Homo sapiens: one gene and its partners. The protein of the gene in region 6 interacts with the protein of the main gene of each other region in a pairwise test. Each region holds a gene or a part of one and is shown on either strand. Other genes may lie near its edges.

Region 1 (3,500 bases), on a different chromosome or scaffold from region 6:
ATTCTTTTTTTTTTTTTGGAGATAGAGTCCCAGGGTGAAGTGCAGTGGCGCAATCTTGATCTCAGCTCACTGCAACCTCTGCCTCCCAGGTTCAAGCAATTCTCCTGCCTCAGCCTCCCAAATAGCTGGGATCAAAGGCACGCGCCACCACGCCCAGCTAATTTTTGTATTTTTAGGAGAGATGGGGTTCTGCCATGTTGGCCAGGCTGGTCTCAAACTCCTAACCTCAGGTGATCTGCCCACCTTGGCCTCCCAAAGTGCTGGGATTATAGGCATGAGCCACCAAGCCCAGCCCAAAAGCAATAAATTCTTACAGAGAAAACTGTGTCTAGACATTGTGCATGATTTCATAGGATTTATGACATAACCAATGAAGAAAATCATGAAATAAATTGTGGATATGACAAAAATGGTGGGAGGTGAAGGGTTTCAAGATATGCATCTTGGGTAAGGCACACTGGCTCATGACTGTAATCCCAACACTTTGGGAGGCCAAGGTGAGGGGATCACTTGAGCCCCGCAGTTTGAGTAACCTGGGCAACCTAGTGAGATCCCATCTCTACAAAAAATTTAAAAGTTAGCCAGGTGTGGTGGTGTGCACCTGTAGTCCCAGCTACTCAGGAGGCTCAGGTGGAAGGATCACTTGAGCCCAGGAGGTCAAGGATGCGGTGAGCTATGATCACACCACCGCACTCCAGCCTGAGCAGGAGTGAAATCCTGTCAAAAAGAAAAGAAAAAGAAGCCGGGCGCAGTGGCTCACGCCTGTAATCCCAGCACCTTGGGAGGCCGAGGCAGGCAGATCACGAGGTCAGGAGATCAAGAGCATCCTGGCAAACATGGTGAAACCCCGTCTCTACTAAAAATACAAAAAAAAATTAGCTGGGCGTGGTGGCGGGCGCCTGTTGTCCCAGCTACCAGGGAGGCTGAGGCAGGAGAATGGCATGAACCCGGGAGGCAGAGCTTGCAGTGAGCGAAGATCGCACCACTGCACTCCAGCCTGGGCGACAGAGCAAGACTCTGTCTCAAAAAAAAAAAAAGGATAGGAAGGAAGGAAGGAAGGAAGGAAGGAAGGAGGGAGGGAGGGAGGGAGGGAGGGAGGGAGGGAGGGAAGGAAGGAAGGAAGGAAGGAAGGAAGGAAGGAAGGAAGGAAGGAAGGGAGGGATCTTGGAGAAATTCAAGAGCTAACAGATACCATAGCAGAGGAATTAACAGGGGACAACTTGATGGAGATGAGTGCTTCCGAACTAGTGCCAGACAATGAGAAAGAAGATGTAGAAGAAGCACAGAAAACGAACTGACAGTAGACAATCGGCATTATTCAAGACTGCTTTTGAAATTTTTTATGACATGGACCCTTCTACGATACACACAATGAAGCTAAAGCAAACAGTGAAAAAAAGCTTGCTACCACAGAGAAATATTTTTAGAGAAATCAAGCATAGTGGTGCATGCCTTTAATCCCAGCTACTTGGGAGACTGAGGCATGAGGATCGCCTAAGCCCAGGTGGAGTTCAAGACCAGCAACATAGCGAGACCTCACCTCTAAAAAAAAAGCAAGGGTGAGGGAGGAAGGAAGGAAGGAGGGAAGGAAGGAGGGATAGAAAGGAGGGAGGGAGGGAGGAGGGGAGGGAAGGAGGAAGGAGGGAGGAGGGAAGGAGGGAGGGAGGCAGGGGAAAAAAAGTTAGACAGAAATTACAATGTATTTCCATAAAGTTACATCAAGTGTGCCCACCTCTCCTGTCTCCTCATCTACCTCCTCCACCTCTTCTGCCTCTGCCACTCCAGACAGCAAGACCTACCGCTGCTCTTCCTCAGCCTCCTCAACATGAAGACAAGGATGAGGACCTTTATGATGATCCACTTCAGTTCATGAACAGTAACTATATTTTCTCCTCCTTACGGTTTTTGTAATAACATTTTTTCTCTAGCATACTTTATTGTAAGAATATGATATGTAATAAATATACAAAATATGTGTTAATCAACTATGTATGTTATCCGTAAGGCTTCTGGTCAACAATAGGCTATTAGTAGTTAAGTTTTTGGGGATTCAAACATTATATGCATATGTGGATATGACTGCTTGGGGTTGGTGTCCCTAATCCCCACATTGTTCAAGGGTCAACTGTATTTTTTGTACCTAGAGCTTACTACCAGCATTAACTGGTTAACTATACCACTTAGATTTAAGCTTTTTTTTGTGAGTGTGAGATGGAGTCTTGCTCTGTCACCCAGGTTGGAGTGCAGTGGCGTGATCTCCACTCACTGCAACCTCCGCCTCCCAAGTTCAAGTGATTCTCCCGCCTCAGCCTCCTGAGTAGCTGGGATTACAGACGTGTGCCACCACGCTTGGCTTATTTTTTGTATTTTTAGTAGACACAGGGTTTCACCATGTTGGCCAGGCTGGCCTTGAACTCCTGACCTCAATTGATCCGCCCAGCTCGGTCTCCCAAAGTGCTGGGATTACAGGTGTAAGCCACCTCGCCCGGCCAGATTTTAGCTTTTATTTCTAAAATAAAACATCAACAACTAAAAAACCAGTTATAGAACTATATTTCTCAAACTAAACTGGGAGCAGTAGACTATAAGCCATGAGTTCTGATGAAGTTTTGAAAGGTTTGTATTTCCCAGAGAAGACTGGTATGGCCCCTGCACAAGGACGACATGCAAATTTGTGAAGTGTTCCATGAAAAAAACAAATTAAAACAATAAATTTTTTCTGAGACAGAGTCTCACTCTGTTGCCCAGGCTGGAATGCAGTGGCGCAATCTTGGCTCACAGCAACCTCCACCTGGGGGCTCAAGTGATCCTCCCACCTCAGCCTCTGAAGTAGCTGGGACTACAGGTGTGCACCACCATGACTAGCTAATTTGTCTAGTTTTTCTAGAGACGGGGTCTCGCCATGTTGCCCAGGCTAGTCTCAAACACCTGAGCTCAAGCCATCCACCCACCTCGGCCTCACAGAGTGCTGGAATTACAGGCATGAGCTACTGCACCTGACCTAATTTTTTTTTAAAAAAGAAAGGTTTGTATTTTCATTTCAATAGTATTTTTATAAAGTACATTCTGGATCATCTGAATAACCACATCACATCCAAAATCAATGTACAAGAATTCAGATGAGCTAAAGAAAAAGGCACAAAATGGACTTATAAAATAAATGACATATTTATGCCAAATAAAAGCCAAACCACTTAACCTGAGATTTAAGAAAGAAAGACTTGCAGCATTCAAACACAGAAGAGTGGTGTAGAAATTGAGTCATCATAGGATATAGAGTATGTAGAAAACAGGCCGGGTGCGGTGGCTTATGCCTGTAATCCCAGCATTTTCAGAGGCTGAGGTGGACAGATTGCGAGGTCAGGAGTTTGAGACCAGCCTGGCCAATACAGTGACACCCCGTCTCTACTAAAAATACCAAAAAAATTAGCTGGGAGTGGTGGTGGGCACCTGTAGTCCCAGCTACCTGGGAGGCTGAGGCAGGAAAATCGCTTGAACCT
Region 2 (3,713 bases), on a different chromosome or scaffold from region 6:
CACCACTGCACTCCAGCTTGGGCGACAGAGTGAACCCTGTCTTAAAGTCTTTCTCTCTCTACACACACACGCACACACACACACACACACACACACACACGAACAGCCAAATTACATATAAAAGGACTAACAACTTGATTGACAGAAGACATCCTGCAACAACAAAAAATGGCAAAACAACGGGCTAATATCTTTAAAGTACTGTAGTTAAATATCATTTTAAAATTAAGAATGAAGGTGTAATTAAAACATTTACAGTCAATTCTAAGAAAGTTTATCACACAAAAACATGCTCAGACTTACAGAAGCAAGATAGTTTATCACACGTAAGACACAGTGGAAAGAAATATTAAAGGATATTCTTCACAAAAAGAAAACTGAAGCTACAGTGAAGGAGTGGAATGTAAGAATAAAAATGTAGGAAATAATTGGTAAGGCATAGTGGTAGATCTGAATAGTTATTGATGTTTTTAAATAAAATAAAACCAGCTTGTTGACATCAGCTTTACCAGTAATCTTTTATCTCCTATATAAAAATATGAGGCAACTACAGTAATAAACTAACATTTTAAAAGTTAGAAGTTTGGTTTACATGAGAAAAAACTCAGGGTAGATTTTAAAAGGTATAAAATAATGTGGAATAGCAGGAATGCAAACACTTTCCATTGGGTGAAATCACCAGATTAACAAATTAAAAAAAAATACATAACACAATGCATGCTGAAAACATCTGATAAAATTCAACACAAATTTTCATTTAGAATTAGAAGACTAGAAGAAAACTTCAGCAGGATAAGGGGTTCCTAGGAAGAAGCAACATACAGTCTTGTATAGTAAGCATACTATTTGGCAGTTTCCTTGGAGAGCAGTTGGAAAAACCCCAAGAAAAGCCATGGCTAAGTCTTCCAAAATTCATGGGAAAAAAATGCAAGGTAACTAACAACGTAAGAGATCTGGTGATTTCTTGGTTTGGGGAGAAACGGGAGTGGCAGTATGATGCTGGAGAAAGACTGGAATTTGAGAGAAACAACTGATGCAAAACGAGGGAGAATGAAGGGATCTGAATATGACCTTGTAAAGAAGCCCAGAAATCTGGACACATTTTCTGGTATCCTTGCGCAGATTTTCTATTTAAAGATGAGGTCTAGAATATACCTTTTCTTGCTGACGTCTTCATCTCCTACTATCGGTAGTGTGCAGCGAAAAAGCAATTGTCCGAACACGCGGTGCCCAATTTCCAGGTTGTTGGATACTCAATGTGAGAGATTCCCGCAATCCTAGAGGGCCTCCAGCAGAGCGGCCAGGATTGTTGTGTGTACGTGGGGGTGGGGGTCTATGCCTGGAACAGGCGTCTCCGGGCCTTGCACGGAGGGCGTTCCGGGAGCGGCGAGCGCGCGTGGGGACCTGGACTCCCCACGCACGGAGAGGGAGGTAGAGGTTGGAGAGGTGAGCTGGGGACAGGCTCCAGAAGGCGGAATTCCAGGTCAAAGATGGGGCGTGGAGAACGTCTCTCTGAACTGGGGTTGGGGGCCAGAGCACAGGGTTCTGGGATGGGGCCCTCCCGGTAGGGGATGAACATACTTCTAGAGGAGGGGTAGAGCCCAGCGGCTGAGCCGGTTGGGGAGTCCATCCGGAGCTCCGGGAACTCGGGGTCCGCGTCCTCCTCGTAGGCCTCTTCCTGGGCGGCGATCTCTGGGACAGATGCGCAGAATTCCAGCTCGACGACGACGTCCTCCCTGACAGCGCCCAGGAAAACGTCCACTTCCAGCCCGGCAGACGAGTCGTGCTGCGCTCCTGAGCGTTCGTCGACGGAGCTCAGGAGGACCTCTGGGATCAGGATGAGGGTGTGTCCACCGAGAGACACTCGCAGGATCGACGTTGGTGCGGGCTCCAGCACCAGGTCGACGTCGTCCAGGGGCACACGCAGGGCACAGCCCGCGGCCAGGACCACTATGGAGGTGAGCGCGTCCACGGCCGGGTCCCCCGCCGGGTCTTCCAGGCTGGGTGCCGCGCGGGGTTCGGGGCCCGCGGGCTCCTCCAATCGGAGGCGCTTGGCAGGGCCGGGTCCTCCTGGCTGCTGTCCCCACCAGGGAGCAGGGAAGGCGCTGGGGCTGCGGGGCCGGCTGACCATCGCCTCGACGGCGCTGTGGACGGCGCTCCTGGGCCTAGCAGCGGACGTGGGGAGCGCGGCGGTGAAGTCCTCTTTGAAGTAACAGATGTCGGTGGTAGGGGAGGCTGGTTGGGACGAGCGGGGCGCAGGACCGCGCGACGCGGGGCGAGTCCTCGGAGCTCCCGGGGCGCCTCCTGGGGGACCGTAGTCTGGGCTGCTGGTGGTGCCTCGCCGGCCACCGGGCTCAGCTTAGCTCGTTGGACCCTTGGGCCTTCCTGATGCAGACCCGGATGCGCACTGCAAAGCCAATTATGTTGTAAATGACGGCAGCGGAACCGAAGTCGCAAAATGTCACGCAATGCTCCGCCCCCTGGAGGACCCGCTCTAGAGGCGGAGGTATCCGTGCTGTCCAGTATCCGTGGCTATAATTGGTCGGACACGCTGGGGAAATACTCTTACAGGCCTCTAGGGGGCAGAATGATCAGTATAACTTATTCAGAAAAAATGATAACAACTGTAATAGAATTTCAAAGATGGCTCGCCTTTAGAACTCATGTTTTCTTGTGATTTCAGGGATTCTAGAGAAAAGACCACTCAGATCTCTCCGACCCATCCAAATGCTACATACAATTCCTTTAATGCTACTAAATTATTTCATTTTAGGAGTATTCAGAAAATACAGATTTCTACTTGGGAAAATTGATTTTAAAATTCTGAGTGAAGCTGGGAGTGGTGGCTCACGCTTGTAATCCCAGCACTTTGGGAGGCTGAGGAAGGCTGATCGCTTGAGCCCAGGAGTTCAAGACCACTCTGGGCAACATGGTGAGACTCGGTCCCTATGAAAAATTTAAAAATTCAAAAATTAGCCTGGCGTGGTGGTGCGTACCTGTGGTCCCAGCTATTTGGGAGGCTGAGATGGCAAGATCGATGGAGCCCGGGAGGTCAAAGCTGGAGTGAACCGTGGTGGTGCCACTGCACTCCAGCCTGGGCAACAGAGTGAGACCCTGTCTAAAAAAAAAAAAAAAAAAAGTGAAACATTTGTGAATAGTTTCATCCTGAAAGTTAAAAAGTTATAAAATTATTAATCATATTAAAATTTAAAACAATATTAATAAAATTATTTTTTTTTCTTTTTTTTTTTTTTTTTGAGACAGAGTCTCGCTCTGTCGCCCAGGCTGGAGTGCAGTGGCGCGATCTCGGCTCACTGCAAGCTCCACCTCCTGAGTTCACGCCATTCTCCTGCCTCAGCCTCCCGAATAGCTGGGACTACAGGCGCCCACCACCGCGCCCGGCTAATTTTTTTTGTATTTTTAGTAGAGACGGGGTTTCACCGTGTTAGCCAGGATGGTCTCGATCTCCTGACCGCGTGATCTGCCCGCCTCAGCCTCCCAAAGTGCTGGGATTACAGGCGTGAGCTACCGCGCCTGGCCGTATAAAATTAATTTTTAAATTGAACACTTATATTTCCATGATTCTTGAATTTTTTTTTTTTTTTTGACAGAGTCTGACTCTGTCTCCCAGGCTGGAGTGCAGTGGTGCAATCTCAGCTCACTGCAGTCTTGGCCTCCCAGGCTCTGGTGATCCTCCCACCTCAGCCTCCGGA
Region 3 (4,230 bases), on a different chromosome or scaffold from region 6:
AGGTTCTCACTCTGTCACCCAGCCTGCAGTGCAGTGACGCCATCTCTCTCAGCTCACTGCAGCCTCGACTTCCTGGGCTCAAGTGATCCTCCCACCTCAGCCTCCCAAGTAGCTGGGACTACAGGCGTGCACCACCACACCCGGCTAAGTTTTGTATTTTTTATAGAGAGGGGGTTTTGCCATGTTGCCCAGGCTGGTCTCAAACTCCTGAGCTCAAGTGATCCTACTCCCTCAGGCTTCCAAAGTGCCAGGATTACAGGTGTGAGCCACCACACCCAGCCACATTACACTGTACTAAATAGTAGACTTCAAAAGATGAAAAATGAAGGTAAAATAGAAATGTACCCCCCCAAAAAAACAGGAAAGGGATAGAAAATCGATTTGTAAATCAGACTCTGAATACTGAACAAAATTTCAACTAAAATTTTCCTTTTATTTAAAGATGGGGGCAGGGCACCATGGCTCACGCCTGTAATCCCAGCATTTTGGGGGGCCGAGGCTCCGGATCACCTGAGGTCAGGAGTTTGAGACCAGCCTGCCCAACATGGTGAAACCCCATCTCTACTAAAAATACAAAAACTAGCCAGGCGTGGTGGTGGGTGCCTGTGATCTCAGCTACTAGGGAGGCTGAGGCAGGGAGAATTGCTTGAATCCAGGAGGTGGAGGTTGCAGTGAGCCGAGATTGTACCATTGCACTCCAGTCTGGGAGACAGAGCAAGGCTCTATCTCAAAAAAATAAATAAATAAACAAAATAAAAATAAAGAGGGGAAGGGAGCGTCCTTAGATACAATTAAATGGACCTCTAACCTAACTGCATTTTCATCAAATCTTCACACCCAGAATTGGCTAAATTTTGTGTATTGGAGAAAGTGTGAGTATAGATTAATAGCACAGCCTTCACTTGAATCCAGTTCTGACACTTACTAGCCATATAACTTCAGCAACCTTGGATTCATGATCTCCAAAATGAGGATAATGAGGAATAATAAGATAATGTATGTAGAAAGTACTTAGTATATTGTATGACACAGAATAAGCATTCAGTGAATTTTATATGTTATAATGATGCTCCTTAAATCTTTAATGTTCATAAATCATGGTATATACATAGAATGGAATACTATTTTTAAAACTTAAAACACGAGGCAGTTCTATTCATATGAAATTGATATGGTATTGATATGGAATGATCTCCAAGCTACTAAATTTAAAAAGAAATTAACAATTAACAGAATTAACTGCTGTATACACAAAACAATGTGTACAGCATGTTACTACTTCTATTTTTTTAATACCATTATCTATATATGTATATGCTTATACATACACAGAATATATCTGGAAGAATACATAAGAAACTAGTATCACAGATTGCCTCTGAGGAGAAAAACTAAGCAGCTAAGGGATAGGGATAGAAAAAAGCCTTACATTTTGCCATATTCTTTCTTGCACCTGTTGAAATTTATAGCATTTGCTTTTATTGACTACCAAAAATGAAAAATAAAATTTATATTATAATCCACAGCTTACACTACCAGAATATTCCATTATATCTTTATTTATTTATTTACTTTTAACGACTACTCCAGCAGATCAGGGCTACCCCCAGGCAGTGTGTGGAGCCTATTCCATTATACTAAATGCATTATGCTAATCTTTGCAGAAAGACGTAAGGTGACCTAATCAAAGTTCTAGTATTAATTTCAACTGCATTGATGATAAGGGTCAAAGATTGTCATATTTTTAGCTAAATTAATAAATAATCTATTAAGGTATATACCTTATTAAGGTCTATCAATCTATTAAGGTATATTACAGGGGTTGCTTGGATTTGAGAAAAAGGAAAACGAGTATGTGGATGAGGGAGACAAGGAGAATAATTTCATTCATTCATTCACTCAAAAATCATATTTGCACGTCAAGTACCAATCATTGCGCTAAGTGCTTAGGAAACAATGACACAATGTCCTTGCCTTTGAAAATCGTGCAGTTTAGTGCGAATACATGAATAGAGCAGTAAAACTGGCACTCTTGGTTACTCAGAATATACATTCATTCATTCATTCATGAACATATAACTGAATGAAGGAAGCCAGGGAGAAAGAAAGCCCGGTGACAAAATAATTCCACTGAAGCCCCTAGTGACTTGAAAAGAACACCAAGAATCGATCCCTCAATCTGAGAATGTGTGTGGACCTTCCTTCCTAGAATCACGAGAGACATCAGGGCCTGCAGAGGTCCCAGGCGCGGCTCTTCCTCCAGTGCCCGTCAGTCACCAGCCCCGAGAGCTTGGAAAACGCAGAGGGTAGGGGTCCCCAGGCCCCAACCCCACACCTGCATCTCTTCAAGCCAGGCACTCCCACTAGGTTCAGCTCTCTAAACGTCCCGGAAGGAACAAACTCTGAGTCAACCTCTGACCCTCAAAATGAAAGTCACTCAGGGTCATTTCCCTCAGTGCTCAGGGCTCATTCACAGACAGTATAAAAGGTCAAGAGAAATGGAAACTCCTCTCGAGGAGCCCTCAGCTTCGTGAAAGCAGGAGACACCTGGGGTAGATCGGACAGGGAGGGTAATCCCAGAGGCTTCTCCAGTCATATGCAGTCGGCTCGGACTACTCATGGCACAGTCACTGACCTTTCCAAAAGGGCTTCCCAGGGGCGGTGGCCAGAGGAGCGAGAGCGGCGGCCCAGGCCCCGCACCCAACACATCTCCCTCTCAGCGGGCTCTGTGCTAAGGGGCGCAGGGTAACCAAGAGCGACCAGGAGGCCGCCATCTTGAACTCCGTACGAGGAGAGGAAGAGGAAAACTTTATTGGAACCCAGAAGAGAGACGGTGGCAAAGTCAAACCCCGCCGTGCACGCTGAAGGCTCCACCCGAGAGAACCAAGGGATCAGTTAGGGAACGTGACCTCCAGTAGCCACATGGGCGGGCTGCACTCCCGTGCCCTCCCGTCCTTCCGGACGCTGCCAGCCGGGACTACGACTCCCAGCATGCAGTGGGGTGGGGCGGGGTGGAACGGAACAGGCAGCTCCAGTCTGGGCAGTGGGAGGGAGGGCGATTCTCCGCCCGGCGCTGGCGGCCGGCCGAGGAACCCGAAGTTTTCAAGGAATTGGGAAGTGATTATGACGGGTAGGCAGGTAACCACTCTTGAGCCTTTTAAGTTAGCTCACATGACCGAGATTCCGAAACCTGAATAAAATGGAGGTGACCCAATGGGCCCTCGGGTTTTAACGGAAGAGTGGTGTCACTTCGTCACACCTCCCTAAATGGTAGGCCCATTTTTTATTTTATCTCCAGCGTCCAACTCATCTTTGACGAGTACCTGAAATGTGCGCCTACCGCTTTCCCTTTTCGTATTTGAATAATATAAATGGTACGCACTCAAATGTTTTGAAAGATTGTATAAGTGGCATGGGAAAGCCAAGGGCCTAAGAAGGACTGTCGGTGGACGGAGAAGTCATGGGACAGTGTATCCGAAGGGTAACTTCTCATTGATCTGCCCTAATTTGATTAAACAATAAATGCTTTGACATACTATAATAAGCGAATTAGGAGTACAAATTGCTGTCCAGAAGAGGCTGGCAATCCAGTAAGCGAGATGAATTCCAGAAAAGATAATACAGGCCGGGCTAGGTGGCTCATGCCTGGGAGGCCCAGGCAGGAGAATCGCTTGAGCCCGGGAGTTTGAGACCAGTCTGGGCAACATAGCGAGATCCTGTCTCTGCAAAAAATACAAAACTGGGCATGGTGGCCTGTGCCCTGTAGTCCTAGTTACTAGGGAGGCCGAGGTGGGGGTTGCGTCCAGGAGGTGGAGGCTGTAGTGAGCTGGGATTGTGCCACTGCACTCCTGCCTGGGAGACAGAGTGAGTCCCTGTCTCAAAAAAACAAAAAAAAAACAAAAAAAAAAAAAAAAAGAGAAGGCCCGGCGCGGTGGCTCACGCCTGTAATCCTAGCACTTTAGGAGGCTGAGGCAGGCGTATCACCTGAGGTCAGGAGTTCAAGACCAGCCTAGCCAACATGGTGAAACCCTGTCTCTACTAAAATACAAAAATTAGCCGGCATGATGGCAGGTGCCTATAATCCCAGCTACTTGGGAGGCGGAGGCAGGGAGAATCGCTTGAATCCGGGAGAGGGTGGCTGCAGTGAGTCGAGATCGTGCCACTGCACTCCAGCCTGGGCAGCTGAGCGAGACTCTGTCTCAAAAAAAGAAAAGAGAAGAGGAGGGGAGG
Region 4 (3,500 bases), on a different chromosome or scaffold from region 6:
AGTAGCTGGGACTACAGGCCCCCGCCACCATGCCCGGCTAATTTTTTGTAGTTTTAGTAGAGATGGGGTTTCAGCTTGTTAGCCAGGTGGTCTCGATCTCCTGACCTCGTCATCTGCCCGCCTCGGTCTCCTGAACTGCTGGGATTACAGGCGTGAGCCACTGCGCCTGGCCACTAAAGTGTGTATTATAAAAACAATACAGCAAACACAATTTAGAAAGTTAAACTTTTTTTTTTTTTTTTTTTTTTTTTAGTAGAGACGTGGTCTTGCTATGTTGCCCAGGCTGGTTTTGAACTTCTGAGCTCAAGCAATCTGCCTGCCTTGGCCTCCCAAAGTGCTAGGATTACAGGTGTGAGCCACCACACCCAGCCTAAACTTTTGTTTTGTTTTGTTTTTTGAGACGGAATCTTGCTCTGTTGCCCAGGCTGGAGTGCATTGGCGCAGTCTTGGCTCATTGCAACCTCTGCCTCCTTGGTTCAAGTGATTCTCCTGCCTGAGCCTCCCGAGTAGCTGGGATTACAGGTGCCTGCTACCACTCCTGGCTAATTTTTTTTGTATTTTTAGTCCCGAGTAGCTGGGATTACAGGTGTCTGCCACCACGCCTGGCTAATTTTTTTCTATTTTTGGTAGGGATGGGGTTTCACCATGTTGGCCAGGCTCGTCTCAAACTCCTGATCTCGTGATCCCCCCACCTTGGCCTCCCAAAGTGCTGGGATTACCGGTGTGAGCCACCACACCTGGCCCTAGACTAAATGTCTTGCCAATTGTGACACAAATATTTTTATGCTAAGGGTGAAGTTTATTGTTAATTTAAGTCCACATTTGTAATTTTTGCTGAGAATAAAAACAAAGAGGCCTAAACCCAAAGCCTTCTTTGGGTTTAGAGAAGGTTTCCTTGCAGGAGTGTCAGTTTTAGCTGAAGATGTGAAGAATCAGGAGGAATTAGCTCAGGAGAGACTAGGGACAGGCATTCTAGTGCAGGGAAACATGGTGAAGGCTGTAAGGTGGGAAGGAGCAGGGTAAATTCCTGGTATGGCAAGAGTACCAGTGTGCCTGCACACAAGAGCGTGATGGAGAGAAGGGGCAAGATACGGCTAGAGAGGTACACAGAAGCTTGGTCGCTGCGGGCCTGCTTAGATTTTTGCACTCTGCTCTGAGAACAGTTGGCCGTAACTGAAGGGTTTCCACCAAACAGAATGACGTGAGATTTATACATACAGTGAAATTCACCCTCTAAGTGGCCAGCTCAATGAGTTTTAACAAATGTGTGCACCTTGGGGGGGTGCAGTGGCATACACCTGTAATCTCAGCTACTTGGGAAGCTGAGGTAGGAGGATTACATGAGCCCAGGAGTTCAAGAGCAGCCTGTGCAACATAGTAAAACACCATCTTTAAATAAATAAATAGATAGATTAGATAGGTAGATAGATTGATTTTAAAAACCAAAGAACAAATGTATACACCTATGCACCGTTCACCACTGTCAGGAAAATACAACATTTTTATCATCCCCCAGAAGTTCCCTTCTGCCTTTTTGTAGTCATTCCCCACCTGCCCTTGCTCCAGACAGCCGATCATCTTCCTATTACTGCAGATTAGTTTTGCCTATTCCGGAAAGTCATATAAATGCAGTCTTTGATGTCTGGCTTCTTTCAGCGTAGTATCTGGGGTTTATCTATGTTGTTGGTCATGTCAGCCATTCTTCTTTTCTATTGTTGAGTAGTGTTCAATTGTATGGAAATGCCAAATTTTGTTTACCCATTCATCTATTGGTGGAAATTTGTGTTGTTTCCAGTTTTAGGCTATTAGGAATAAAGTTAAGAGCATCTGTAAGCCTTTGTGTGGACGTGTTTTCCTTACTCTTGCGTAAATACCTAGGAAAACAGCCACTGTGTTGTATAATAACTGAGTGTTTAACTTTTAAGAAACTACCAAACTTTTCCAAAGCGGGTACATTTTCACTTCTACCATCAATGTACAAAGATTCTAATTGTTCTACACCTTCCTCAGTATTTGATATTGTCAGTCTTTATAATTCTAGCTGTACCAGTGAGTATACAGTGATCTCTCTTTGTGGTTTAATTTGCATTTCTCTAGTGACTAATGAAGTCGGTCATTTTTTATTTTTTGAGACGGAGTCTCGCTCTGTCACCCAGGCTGGAGTGCACCTCGGCTCACTGCACCTCCGCCTTCTGGGTTCAAGCAATTCTCCTGCCTCAGCCTCCCGAGTAGCCGGGACTATAGGCACACACCACCATGCCTGGCTAATTTTTGCATCTTTAGTAGAGACGGGTTTTCACCATGTTGGCCAGGCTGGTCTCAAACTCCTGATCTCAAGTGATCTGCCTGCCCCAGCCTCCCAGAGTGCTGGGATACAGGCATGAGCCATCACACCCAGCCAAAGCTGGGCATTTTTTAATGTGCTTATTGGACATTGGTATATCTTCTGTAGTAAGGTATTCAAATCTTTTGCCCCTTTTTATAGGAGTGTTGGCTTTACAGAATTGTAAGGTTTTTTAAAAATATATTTCATTTTAAGTGAGTTTTAGATTTTGACGCTATGCTTCACTTTGAATCTTTGTGTATGGTGTGAAAAGACCTGGTTTGTTTTTGTCTTTTTTTTTTCCTATGTGGCTGTTCATTTACTTCTGCACTGTTTGTTGAAAAGACTGTCCTTTCCCCACTAGACTACCTTGGCACCTCGGGTGGAAATCAGTTGTCCATATAATTGTAGGTCTGCCTCTGGGCTCTGTATCCTTTCACCAGTGCCTGAAGACCAAATATCTTGATTACTGCAGCTTTGAGTAGGCTTGAAATCTAGTCACATGAGTCCTCCAGCTTTGCTCTTCTTTTTCAGAATGACTTTGGCTACATCCTTTGCATCTTCATATACATTTTAGAATCTGCTTGGGTTTTTTTTTTTTTTTTTTTTGAGACAGTGTCTCACTCTGTTGCCCAGGCTGGAGTGCAGTGGTGCAATCTTGGCCCACTGCAGCCTCGACCTCCCTGGGCTCAGGTGATCCTCTCACCTCAACCTCCCGAGTAGCTGGGACTACAGATGCGAACCACTATGCCCAGCTAATTTTTGTATTTTTTATAGAGATGGGGTTTTGCCGTGTTGCCCAAGCTGGTCTCGAACTCCTGGGCTCAAGTGATTTGCCTGCCTCAGCCTCCCTAAGTGCTGGGATTACAGGCGTGAGCCACCACACTCGGTGAATCTGCTTGTTTTTTCACACAACAAAACCTACTGAGATTTTGATTGAGATAGATTTTGTGTGTGTGTAAAAATGTGCTGTTTTTATGGTTAATGAAATGACAGTGGTGAGACTGATACAGAAAGACCCGTTAAGGAGACCTGACAAACATCCAAATGACAGAGGGTAGTAGCATCAATGAGGGCGGCTGAGTAGAAAATAAGTGGGTGGATTTGAGAGAGATTGAAAAAGTGAGCCAAAGCTGATTGCTGATCTTTAACTGGTGGCTACCTTAGAACCATAGTC
Region 5 (4,031 bases), on a different chromosome or scaffold from region 6:
AAATGCATCAAAGACCCCCCACCCTACCCCGCATTGCTTTCATGATAGAGCTCAAGCTTTTGAAGGTGATCCACAGTCCACATGACCGGGCCGTGCCTCCTTCCCTGCCACTCTGTTTATGGGCCCCAGAAGCACCGCTCATACCAGGCCGCTTTTTGCCTCCATGTCTTCACTCCTCTCTCCTCTCTCCTCTCTTCCTGAAACTCCTCTTCCTCACTCTTCTCGAGGCTAGACTGGATGACTGGCTTAACACACTTTATTTGAGAGAGAGGTTGTATCTTAAGTTTGAGATTCTGTGTACATCCTATAATGCAGGATGTACCCTCTCCAGGATACCCTCTCTGAGTTCTTCATGCTCCTCTCTCCATACACGCCAAGCTGGGGTCCCTTGTCTTAGCTCCCTTTTCCATGCTTCTCACAAATGTTATGTATGGATTTTACTCCCCCATTAGCCTGGAGAGCGCTTGAGTCTACCTCACTCATTTTTATATCCCAGGGCATGGCTCAGCATCTAGTAGGCACTCAATAAATGCTTGCTGCAGACTGACTCTTCCCCCAGGCTCTATGCACCTCTCCACCTGCCCTCTCTCCTTGGGATCCTGGGATTGTTTTTCTACCCTTAGATTAATGAGGCCCTTGGGGTTGCTCCTGGCAGCAAGGCTGCCAGCAGTAGACCCAGTGCTGGGAAAAGTTCAGCGAGCTCTGGGATTGGCTGGAGAGACTGGCTCTGCACTTCCCATCTTCCACCTTCCCACGATGAACACAGGCTTCAGGCCCCTCCCGCTGTTGTGCAGTTTGCTCCTCAGCCATCCCAGGGAGGGAGACGATGGGGTCTTCCCTGCCTGTTGTGCCTTTGCTCCCAGAGCCATAGGAGGTAACTGCTAGGGATCAATTGGGGATATCCTAGGCAGAGGGGAGAGGTGAAAAGCCCGGGACTTTCTCATTAGAAGGCGGGACCTGCCACTCCGGGATGGCAATGTCAGTAGAGCACCTTCTCCTGGGGCCAAACACATGTAGGATGGTCCCCAGTAGGTTCCAGCCATTGAGAGCCGAAGAACCCGCTTCCCTGCTCCATCCCTGTTTTTCAGCTATGCTTGCTGCCACTGCAAGTAGGAATAAGCCCCTGGCAGTTCCCTGAATTAAGTCTCAGTGCAATCCCTTTTCTCGTTGGGAGCTAGGGAATTGCCAGACCTCTGGGCTGTGGTCCTGGTGGGGGCAACCCAGGCTGAGAGGAGTCTGGAAAGGTGGAGCTAAGTAGGGAAAGGCGAGGTGCTGCACTGGCCTTCAGGTTCCCGGGGAGAAGCAGTTGGTGGAGCACAGGCCTGCAGACATGCTTCCAACCTGTCAGTACAGGCCTGGTTGAGTACCTCTTCTCAGACTAGGAGAGGGGACAGGGAACCGAGTGCTCCCAAGCCTTTCTACAAAGGATTTCCTCTCTTCCACGGGTCAGAGGCCAGGAATATTTCTCAGACTAAATGGAGTAATAGCTGGGGGAATAATAATAATAGCATTTAGATAGTGCCTGCTATTAGGCACTGTTCTAAGTGCTTTAAATATATTAGCTCTAACAACTCTCCCAACAATCCTATGATTGATTTGATTCTCATTTAACAGATGAAGAAACTGAGGCACAGAGACGTAAAGTCAATTGCACAAGTTAGTAAATGGCAGAGCCAGGATCTGATCCCAAGCGAAGTGGCTGCGCAGCCCCGCTTGTCAGCATTGCCTCTCAGAGGGGAATGCCTGAATCTGCAGTTTTCCGCCGCCCACTCACATCCTCACTGTTACTCCCCTGCCCCATTCCTCTGAGGCCAAAGCTGCTGCAGACATGGGATGGGAGGAGAGGAGCCTGGAAGGTCCATTCCACTCAGGAGTTGGGGGAGCAGCACTCAAGGCGGCCAGGGGCCCCCGGCAAGAGCCACACAAAACCCTGATGCCCTGGGAAGGATGGAGACCCCCGATGTTTTGATTCTGAGGAGAAAGGACAAGTGGATAGACAGACCTGGTCTGGGGAACCTGTGGTTCGGGGGAAGCAGGAAGTCACAACCCTAAACTGGCCAGTCCTCCAGGCCCTCCTGGTTGTAAGTGACCACTCTAGAGGGTTCCTGTGTTCCTGTAAGCCCCCACTTCTAAACAGCCTAGCTCCTCACCACCCTCAAGTTTGGGGCCATTAGAGGAAAAAGGGAAGCCAAGCAATGAGAGAATAGGAACCCTCAGAGCCACCAAACCATGGGAACATCCCCGGTGAAGAGCCTTGAGTTGGCAGGATGACCTCTCCCCATCTCAGCAAGGGAGCGGGACCTGAAAGCTGAGGGTCTGCACTTTCTGGTCCTGCCTCCTGCTCAGGATCTGGGAAGTGGAAGGAAAAGGCCAGGGGACGCTGGCAGGGGAGGGGTGATGCCTCACCAAGTCCTTGGAGGTGCCGAGCCTCTTGAGGCTGTCCAGCGGGAGCAGGTCGGCCGAGTCCTTGTGCAGGAACTGGGTGGCCTGTTTGAGCCGGCGCTGCTGGCTCAGGTGGGCTCGGTCTCGAAGCTGTGCCTCCTGCCCCCTCGTCCTGGCTTCTCCCTCATCTCTCCTGGCCTCCTGCTTGGTGCTCATGGCCCCTGCTGGAGGAGTGGGCCAGGGGCTGCTCGGTGGGGGCGTCACCGAGTCCTCTCTGCTTCTTCCTGCCTGTCTCTGTCCCGTGCTGCAGCTCTCTTTCCAACAGGAGGGTCTCCACGGGAGGGAAAGAGGAAAAATAAATAACATGCAGGAGCAGCCGCGTCAGTCTCCAATTTCCCGAGATTGCTGTAGAGGGAGTGAGACTCCGGCTGGAAAAACCCAGTCCTAGAAGAGAGGGAGGGTTGGCAGGGCCCACAGCTGGCTGACTTGGCCGCATCCCCAACGCTGGGGTCCTGGTCAGAGCGGGCGGTGGATGGGGCGTATGTGTGTGTGTGTGTGTGTGTGTGTGTGTGTGAGAGAGAGAGAGAGAAGGAGAGTGAGAGACAGTGCTGTAAACTGTCAGGGTGCCCGTGCCAGGTGGTTTGCGAGGAAGCGCTTGTCACTGTGTGGGGGCAGCAGCCTTAGTGCACCTCCCAGCGTGTGTGGCCCCCGCCCTCCTCTGCATCCCTCCCAGGCTTCCCAGGACTGCCCAGCTGTTTTCTCCTGGCATTATCTGCAGCCCAGGGCTGGCGCGCAGGCCAGTAACTGGGTTCAGATCAAAGAGGGGCAGCATGAGAGCGTCCTTCCCTCCTCTCATCCCCCTAGCCTTACCTTGTTAGGTCTCTTGCCTCCCGCCTAGCAGATGTCAGAGTCTTTAACTAATTGACTCTGGATTCTGGGTTCCAGGGAATGACAGGAACAACTCTGAATCTTCCCACGAGTAGAAATTGTCCCTGGCATCTCAGTCTCCTTTATATGACTCTCCTCAAGTCCTGGCTCTTTAAAAAATGTTGCATTTCAAATATACAGAAGTTATAAAGAATAAGATAACCAGTACTCTTCACTCATCACCAGTTTAAAAAATAAGCTGTTGAAGCTCCCTGTGCACTTCCACTTCCGCCTGCTGAAATTGGTGTTTATCAGGCCCAGACTTCTTTATATTCTTTATGCAAATACTTACATATGCATTCTAAGCAATATGTCGTTGGTTTTGTCCTACTCACTGTATTTATTCTTCTGCAATCTGCTCTTTTTTGCTGAATAGTTTTTGTTAGTGAGATTCATCCATACGGTATGCCCAGCTCTAGTTAATTGACTTCACCTGCTGTGTAACATAGTATTCCATTAGATGCATGCATGACATTGAGGAAATGTAGGTTATTTTTCATTTTTAGGTCTAACAAACAATGCTGCTATGAATATTTTTGCACACATCTCCTGGGGCACCTATGTAGGCATTTCTCTAGAGTATACACCTACACCTAGGAGTGGAATTGCTGGGGCATCCCATATACAGCTTTGCCTTTTTGGCATATTGCCAGAGTGTTTTTACCAGTGCACACTGAGACAGCTGCACACAGGGGCTCCTGAGGTTCCACATCCTCTCCAGG
Region 6 (3,500 bases):
TTCTGAGTAGTAGCATGATGAAGTCTGGTCGTCCTGCTCTGTCCAGCCCGGGACGTGAGTCGTTCCTTTGTCCAGCATGTCCAAGCTGTGTGGCACATATGGGCGGGAAAAAGCATAGCATATATGGGGTTCAGCACCATCCACAGTTTCTGGCGTCCACGTGGTGGGGGTAGGGGGTGCTTCTTGAAACCCTCATGGATGAGGGGGACTACTGTGAACCAAAAGCTTAATTTAAAGAAGTGACCACAGACTATATTGCACTATTCAGGATTTAGTTATCTTTTTGAATTGTAAACAGATAATCAAGAACAAACATTCCGGAAGATGTTTCTTGTTTCCTTTGCTTTTGATTTTCTTCTGATGCTTCTTGGTGTCTTTTCTTGCTGCGGATCCCACAGGGACACCTCCACATCGCCCAGGTGCCGCAGGGGGAGCAAGTCCAGATCACGCAGGACAGCGAGGTGAGTCAGCTCTCGCTGCAGCACTGTCCCTGCAGGCACCGTGCCCACATGCTCCCGACCTTCATCGGTGTCACAGTGCGAGGGCAGCAGGGAGCCCCCAGGACAGGGAACGTGGGCAAGGGCTGCAGGACTCCGCTTCCAGGGTGCACATAGCGGGCCTGCAGTCTCTGTGGCCTCTCTGCCTCCCCCTCCTGTCCGTTGGTCTCCACAGCTTCTGGTCTGTCTTGGTAAAGATCTCCTGGGTAGATGTTTCTACTGCTGGCTGGAAGTGCCCTCTGAGTACCCTTCTCTCCCTGTCTGGCCCTGCCCTTCCTGCCAGGGGAGGCCCCCAGTGTGGCCGAGATGGGGTCTGCCCCTGCGTAGGTGACCTGACATACCCCCTCACCTGCCATGTGGCCCCAGCTTCCTAGTGGCCTCTACGGGATTAGTGCCGATTTCATGGGATGGTGGGGAATCCCACAAGGTGATGCTGCCAGTCCTGAGAGCTGCTCATAGCCCTTGACGCACCTGCTGGGTCTGTGATTGTCTCAGTTTCTGGAGCTCTACCCGGCCACGCACTCAGAAGTGCGGGCTCAGCTGCTGTTGGGGTCTGGAATGTGAAGGCGGCAGTGACAGTCTGAGTTCTTGGAAAGCCGAGGCCAGCCTGTTGCGATGCTCCATGTTTGCATGCCAGAGCAGGACTGTCTCCCGGGTGACCGTCCTTCGACTCTGGGCTGTTTCCTGCAGCACAGGCAGCAGCAGGCACAGGGCACTAAGCAGCACACACGTGTTGTACTCAGTGACCGTGGTGCGCTCTGGGGGATGAGGAACATGGCTGTTTCTAGGTCGTGACAATGGCACCAGCTTTGTGTTTGGTGCATAGTAGTGTGTCGCTGCAAAGATCTCAGGCTTCCCCACACACACCAGCAGCAGAGACTAGGAAGCCCGGGTGCTGAGGTCAAGGGGACTCATGGAGATGTTGGCGTGCGAGGCCTCCTGGGAGCTCATGCTGGGTGCAGGTGCTGTGGGGGAGCAGAGGAGAGAGAAGCCCTGCCATCGGGGACTCACAGCGGGCGCAGAGCCTCCTGCCCAAGTGCCCGTGAGCAAGACTGTGGACACATGCACGCCGTGGCACGTGGAGCACCAGGGACTCGGGCGTGTCTGCTGGCAGTGGCTTTAATTTGGACACCAGCAGTTCCCGGTGGGTTATCCTGAGAGGGGAGCACATGCGTAAGGGTTCTGAGGGCGGAATGAGGATGAGGTGAAAGGGGAGGAACGAATTCATGTGGGGGCCGTGAGCGACTGGGAATGAGTGGGCTCATCCACACAGCGACATGACCAGGTCACTAAGAAACGTGGTCAGATGGATGGATGGAAGGAAGCAGCAGGGCGGGGAGCAGGTAGGGGACGGTCCCAGGAGGCCAGAGTGTCCAGGAAGGAGCAGGGCCTTCCCTGTTCTGTGTCTGTGGGTGGGTCAGGGACCATCTCCTTGGAGATGTCAGGAGATGCGCCTGTCAGCTCAGCGAGGTCAGGTGCAGGAGTTGGGGGCCTGAGTGGCTGCGAGGTGCAGGATCCCAGCAGCACCTTCCAGTGCAGGAGCTGCCTTTGAGGGGCAGGGGAAGGTTTGCTTCTCAAGGCACAGACAGATGTGGGCTGGGAGGCTAAGCTCACTGCCAAAGAGCTCAGCCAGAGTTCTTGAATACCTGGAAGCCTATGAAGTTCGTCAGAATGCTTAATTTCCTTAGAGTCATTGAAAATGCAGGAAAATTGAAACAGCAGCAAAAGAAAAAAAACAACACACATTTGCTTTTTATAGTTTATGCTAAAAAAATCTTGACTACTCGAATTTCAATTTTTTATTATTAGTTTTATCCATCAGTTTTCAAAACTGAATCCATCTTGTATAGGTGATTGTCTTTCGTTTTCAATAGGAATTGAATGCAGTAAGTTAGAAATTGCTAATAATACTAACGATGGCTTTGTGATGAGTGACAGTATGCAGTCTCGTCACCATACATTCATACCGTGTTCATTTAAAATTATTTTGTTAAAACAGGATATCTGCAAATAAACATTTAGCAGGGTCTGACAGACAACACAGTTCCTTTTTACAACAAATGAAAATGAATTTCTAACTGGAGAGCTCTTAGTAGCTCTGTGGTTGAGTGAGTTGGTTCCTTGCGTGCAGCCCGTGACCTGGCGTGGTGATGCCGCACAGCTCAGCAAGGCGTCCCCCTTCGGGGAAGCTGGGCGACACACACATAGGACGTCTCTCTGCTACTTTCTGTACTTTTTGTGAGTCAGATTCTTTCAAAATAAAAAATGAAGTAAAAATGACATTTTCATTTGGGGTCAGGGTAGGGGAATGAGTACAATGCTTTTTGAGTTGTTTGTTCATCTTTAAAATAATAAATAGTACCTAGAAATGTCAATATTTTGTTTTGGGGCTTTTGTTGCTACTGGAGGTTGAATTTTTGCAGAACTGGGGTTTTCTTGTTATTCTCAAGTGGCCTGTGATGTGTCTTGGCGTGTTTGCCGTGTCTGAGGGTGTCTTGGTGTGTTTCTACTCATGACCGTCTCCTCCTCTCGTTCTTTGTAGGGCAACCTCCAGATCCATCACGTGGGGCAGGACGGTCAGGTGAGTGTCCCAGTCCCCATGCACATGCGGGCGTTGCGCTGCCGAGGGATGGGGTTCTCAGGGGAGGGGGTGGGACGGTCAGGTGAGTGCCCTGGTCCCCATGTACATGTGGGCATTGCGCTGCCGAGGGGTGGGGCTCTCACGGGAGGGGTGGGACGGTCATTGTGGGCATTGCGCTGCCGAGGGGTGGGGCTCTCATGGGAAGGGGGCGGATGGTCAGGTGAGTGCCACAGTCCCCCTCTCACATACAGGCCATGGTGCTGCCAAGGAATGGGGGCTCTCGCGGGAGGGAGCGAGGGTGCAAAGGCCTCTCAGTGTGAGCCCCAGAGCAGGACTGGCTTTCCTCACCATGACAATGCACAGGCCTGGAAGGGGGGAGGGCAGGGCTTGGGGGTTACATTTGCTGCTCCGTAGGATTTCAG
Region 7 (3,500 bases), on a different chromosome or scaffold from region 6:
CTTGCTCTCAAGGAGTTTAGATTCTAGTGCAGGAGAAACAATAAGTCAGCAAACAAAATAATCAGATAGTAGAAGGTGTTTTATGGAGAATTATTACAGGTGATATGATACAGTGGTTATTGGGTGGCTAATTATAGGTCGAGTGACTAAGGTAGGGAAAGAGTCTGAACAACAGGAAGTAACCAGCCATGCAAAGATTGGGGCTGAGCTTCCAGCACTGGGAACAGCCTAGAACAAAAGCCCCTATGGAGGACCGAAAGCCCTGTGTGGCTAGAGCGTAGTGGGTTGGGGAGAGAGGAGAAAATGAGATAGTCGGGCCAGAGTTCATAGGCCAGGGCAGGTATTTTGCAATGTGATGGAGAATGAAGTGTTTTAACAAGAGAATGACAGTATGTTTTTTTTTTTTTTGAGATAGAGTCTCACTCTATCGCCCAGGGTGGAGCACGGTGGCATGAACTCGGCTCACTGCAACCTCTGCCTCCCGGGTTCAAGCAATTCTCCTGCCTCAGCCTCCCGAGTAGCTGGGATTACAGGCATGTACCACCATCCCCAGCTAGTTTTTGTATTTTTAGTTGAGATGGGGTTTCACCATGTTGGCCAGGCTGGTCTCGAACCCCTGACCTCAAATGATCCACCTGCCTTGGCCTCCCAAAATGTTGTGATTACAGGCGTGAGCCACCATGCCCGGCTTGTATGATTTACTATTTAAAAATTTCTGGGCCAGGCGCGGTAATCCCAGCACTTTGGGAGGCCAAGGCGGGCGGATCATGAGCTCAGGAGTTCAAGACTAGCTTGACCAATGTGGTGAAACCCTGTCTCTACTAAAAATACAAAAAAAAATTTAGCTGAGTGTGGTGGCACGTGCCTGTAGTCCCAGCTACTCAGGAGGCTGAGGCAGGAGAATTGCTTGAACATGGGAGGCAGAGGTTGCAGTGAGCTGAGATCTTGCCACTGCACTCCAGCCTGGGCGACAGAGCAAGACTGCATCCTCCACAACCAAAAAAAAAAAAAAAATTCTGTCTTTGAGGAAAAAAAGGTGACTTATGATTATTGTATGGAGATGGGATTGTACTAGGGGTAAGTGTAGAAATAGGGAAGTCAGGAGGCTCTTATAGAAGATGATGATGACTCAGATTAGGGTGGTAATGATGTAGAGAAGTAGATAAATTTGCTACATATTTTGTAGTAATTAAAGATAATGAATAGAAATTGAAAAATATTTTTTTCAATTTCAAGCTTGCTTTGGAACGTCAGAAAACTGCAGAGAAAGAGCGATTATTTCTTGTATATGCTAAGCAGTGGTGGAGAGAATATTTGCAAATTCGACCCTCACACAACTCACGACTGGTTAAGATTTTTGCACAGGTTTGTAAATTATATTAGAATAATTTTATGCCTGTATTTGAGATTTACTGTTATGTGTGTAAATTTCATTTAATATTTATTTGTAAAATGTATTCCAAAAAATAAAAGTGTATTTGTAAAATAAAATGCTGATTTTGTAATATTCTCTTTCACTGCATAGTGAGTGGCAAGATCAATCTATGTCTTATTTTACTTTCAATTTCAGTTATTGTGGGTTTTTGAAAAATCACCTTTCTCAGGTTGAATCAATTATTGTGTTTTAAACCCTTTCTGAATATATTTGATTTAAAGTAGATGAAAATCCATTTTGTTTAACTTGGAATGTGTATTTGCTTGATACTTAGTGCTAAATAATTAACCATTTGGACACTTTGCAGGTTATATGTAAATCCAGCTCTTGTGTGCAGAACGGGGGGGGGCTCTGGGCATATATATATTTTTTGTTAGGGTTTTAAAAAAAATTGTATATAACCACGACTTCTAAGCCAGTGACCAGTAATGTTTAACTGAAGCATTTCAACTATATATCTCTGCCTCCATTTTTCCTGAGTCCTAAACCCATTTTCTCTCTTTAACAGACCAATATAAAATATATGGTCAGGTCAGCTAGGCGCGGTGGCTCACGCCTGTAATCCCAGCACTTGGGGAGGCCGAGGTGGGTGGATCAAGAGGTCAGGAGATCGAGACCATCCTGGCTAACACGGTGAAACCCCGTTTCTACTAAAAACACAAAAAATTAGCCGGGCGTGATGGCGGGCTCCTATAGTCGCAGCTACTCGGGAGGCTGAGGCAGGAGAATGGCGTGAACCCGGGAGGCGGAGCTTGCAGTGAGCCGAGATCGCACCACTGCAGTCCGGCCTGGGCAACACAGCAAGACTCCGTCTCAAAAAAAAAAACAACAAAAAATGTGGTCAGGTTCACGTATTTTTTGTAACTCCTAAGGAACAGTTCAAATATTTTGTATATATTCAGCCTCATACAGATGCTTTCATATAAGTATAGTGTAGTATATTATTTTAAGTTAAGTTTCTCAAATCCTGTACATTCATCCAGCTTTACCCTACTTTCCCTAGATTTTGGAACAGGCTAAAAGTGGTTTAGTGTCCAGATGGGGAGCTTGGGAATGAGAGGTTGACTAGAGGTGGGAATAAGGGAAATGGCTTCTGACTTTCTGATAGCGTTGTTTATATATTGAATGACTGGTTGGCAAGGTAACAACATTATCAGGACAAAGGCAAGGAGAAACCAATCAAAATGTAACTGGCTTCCTGGCCGGGCGCGGTGGCTCACGCCTGTAATCCCAGCACTTGGGGAGGCCGAGGCAGGTGGATCCTCTGAGGTCAGGGGTTTGAGACCAGCCTGGCCAACATGGCGAAACCTTGTCTCTACTAAAAATACAAAAATTAGCCAGGCTTGGTGGCAGGCACCTATAATCCCAGTTAGTCAGGAGGCTGAGGCAGGAGAATTGCTTAACCCGGGAGGCGGAGGTTGCAGTGAGCGAAGATCACGCCATTGCACTCCAGCCTGGGCAACAGAGTGAGACTCTGTCTCAAAACAATAACAACGACAAAAAATATACATATATATATATATAAACTGGCTCCCTGCTGTCTATATAGTCTGAGGCATTTATTCATTGCCACGTGGAATTAGGAACTAGAGAGGACTCAGGATGGAGTGAGGCAGTGAATCAGAGAAATGGCAGGATCAAAGAGGAGGAAGAAGTTGAAATGCACTAAGGAAGTCAAGGAAGTGGGATTTTCTTTTAGGAAATATTACTTAAACGACTTCCTCTCTCAGAATTCATTTTAAGATTTGAACCATAGAACGTAATTTAGTCTCATAGTAACCATATAAGATTGTCAAGTGGCCAGGCATTGGCTCTTTTTGTAAACAGTATGAAGGTTAGAGAAGTGAACAGTCTTTTCAAGGCCAAACAGCAACTCAGTCATGGCAAAGTCTGTGTCAAATTGGAGTTTCAACTGGTGCCTTTTTGGTTTATGCCACCTCTTTCCATATACATAGAGTAAATAAAATGCTGATTTAATTTAGATTCCTCAGAACTGTTTCTTGCTGCTTCCTGTATTTGACTAGTTCTGAAATTAAACAACAACAGTGTAAAACAGTCAATCTAA

The links.
Region 1: the proteins of BANP (region 6) and LIN54 interact in binary tests that used the Homo sapiens proteins (3 or more experiments, as listed by UniProt).
Region 2: the proteins of BANP (region 6) and PRR23B interact in binary tests that used the Homo sapiens proteins (3 or more experiments, as listed by UniProt).
Region 3: the proteins of BANP (region 6) and AFG1L interact in binary tests that used the Homo sapiens proteins (3 or more experiments, as listed by UniProt).
Region 4: the proteins of BANP (region 6) and LAP3 interact in binary tests that used the Homo sapiens proteins (3 or more experiments, as listed by UniProt).
Region 5: the proteins of BANP (region 6) and NRIP2 interact in binary tests that used the Homo sapiens proteins (3 or more experiments, as listed by UniProt).
Region 7: the proteins of BANP (region 6) and CEP76 interact in binary tests that used the Homo sapiens proteins (3 or more experiments, as listed by UniProt).

The regions. Positions count from the first base shown.
Region 1 is NC_000004.12:83,000,824-83,004,323, forward strand, and holds part of LIN54 (protein lin-54 homolog), read right to left. Parts: intron 1-3,500. UniProt on the Homo sapiens protein: Component of the DREAM complex, a multiprotein complex that can both act as a transcription activator or repressor depending on the context. In G0 phase, the complex binds to more than 800 promoters and is required for repression of E2F target genes.
Region 2 is NC_000003.12:139,018,531-139,022,243, forward strand, and holds PRR23B (proline-rich protein 23B), read right to left. Parts: upstream 2,397-3,713; 5' UTR 2,132-2,396; coding exon 1,334-2,131; 3' UTR 501-1,333; downstream 1-500.
Region 3 is NC_000006.12:108,293,624-108,297,853, reverse strand, and holds the start of AFG1L (AFG1-like ATPase), read right to left. Parts: upstream 2,801-4,230; 5' UTR 2,775-2,800; coding exon 2,636-2,774; intron 1-2,635. UniProt on the Homo sapiens protein: Putative mitochondrial ATPase. Plays a role in mitochondrial morphology and mitochondrial protein metabolism.
Region 4 is NC_000004.12:17,590,698-17,594,197, forward strand, and holds part of LAP3 (cytosol aminopeptidase), read left to right. Parts: intron 1-3,500. UniProt on the Homo sapiens protein: Cytosolic metallopeptidase that catalyzes the removal of unsubstituted N-terminal hydrophobic amino acids from various peptides.
Region 5 is NC_000012.12:2,832,236-2,836,266, forward strand, and holds the start of NRIP2 (nuclear receptor-interacting protein 2), read right to left. Parts: upstream 2,801-4,031; 5' UTR 2,749-2,800; coding exon 2,407-2,748; intron 1-2,406. UniProt on the Homo sapiens protein: Down-regulates transcriptional activation by nuclear receptors such as NR1F2.
Region 6 is NC_000016.10:88,034,934-88,038,433, forward strand, and holds part of BANP (protein BANP), read left to right. Parts: intron 1-389; coding exon 390-461; intron 462-3,039; coding exon 3,040-3,078; intron 3,079-3,500. UniProt on the Homo sapiens protein: Controls V(D)J recombination during T-cell development by repressing T-cell receptor (TCR) beta enhancer function. Binds to scaffold/matrix attachment region beta (S/MARbeta), an ATC-rich DNA sequence located upstream of the TCR beta enhancer.
Region 7 is NC_000018.10:12,689,224-12,692,723, reverse strand, and holds part of CEP76 (centrosomal protein of 76 kDa), read left to right. Parts: intron 1-1,236; coding exon 1,237-1,365; intron 1,366-3,500. UniProt on the Homo sapiens protein: Centrosomal protein involved in regulation of centriole duplication. Required to limit centriole duplication to once per cell cycle by preventing centriole reduplication.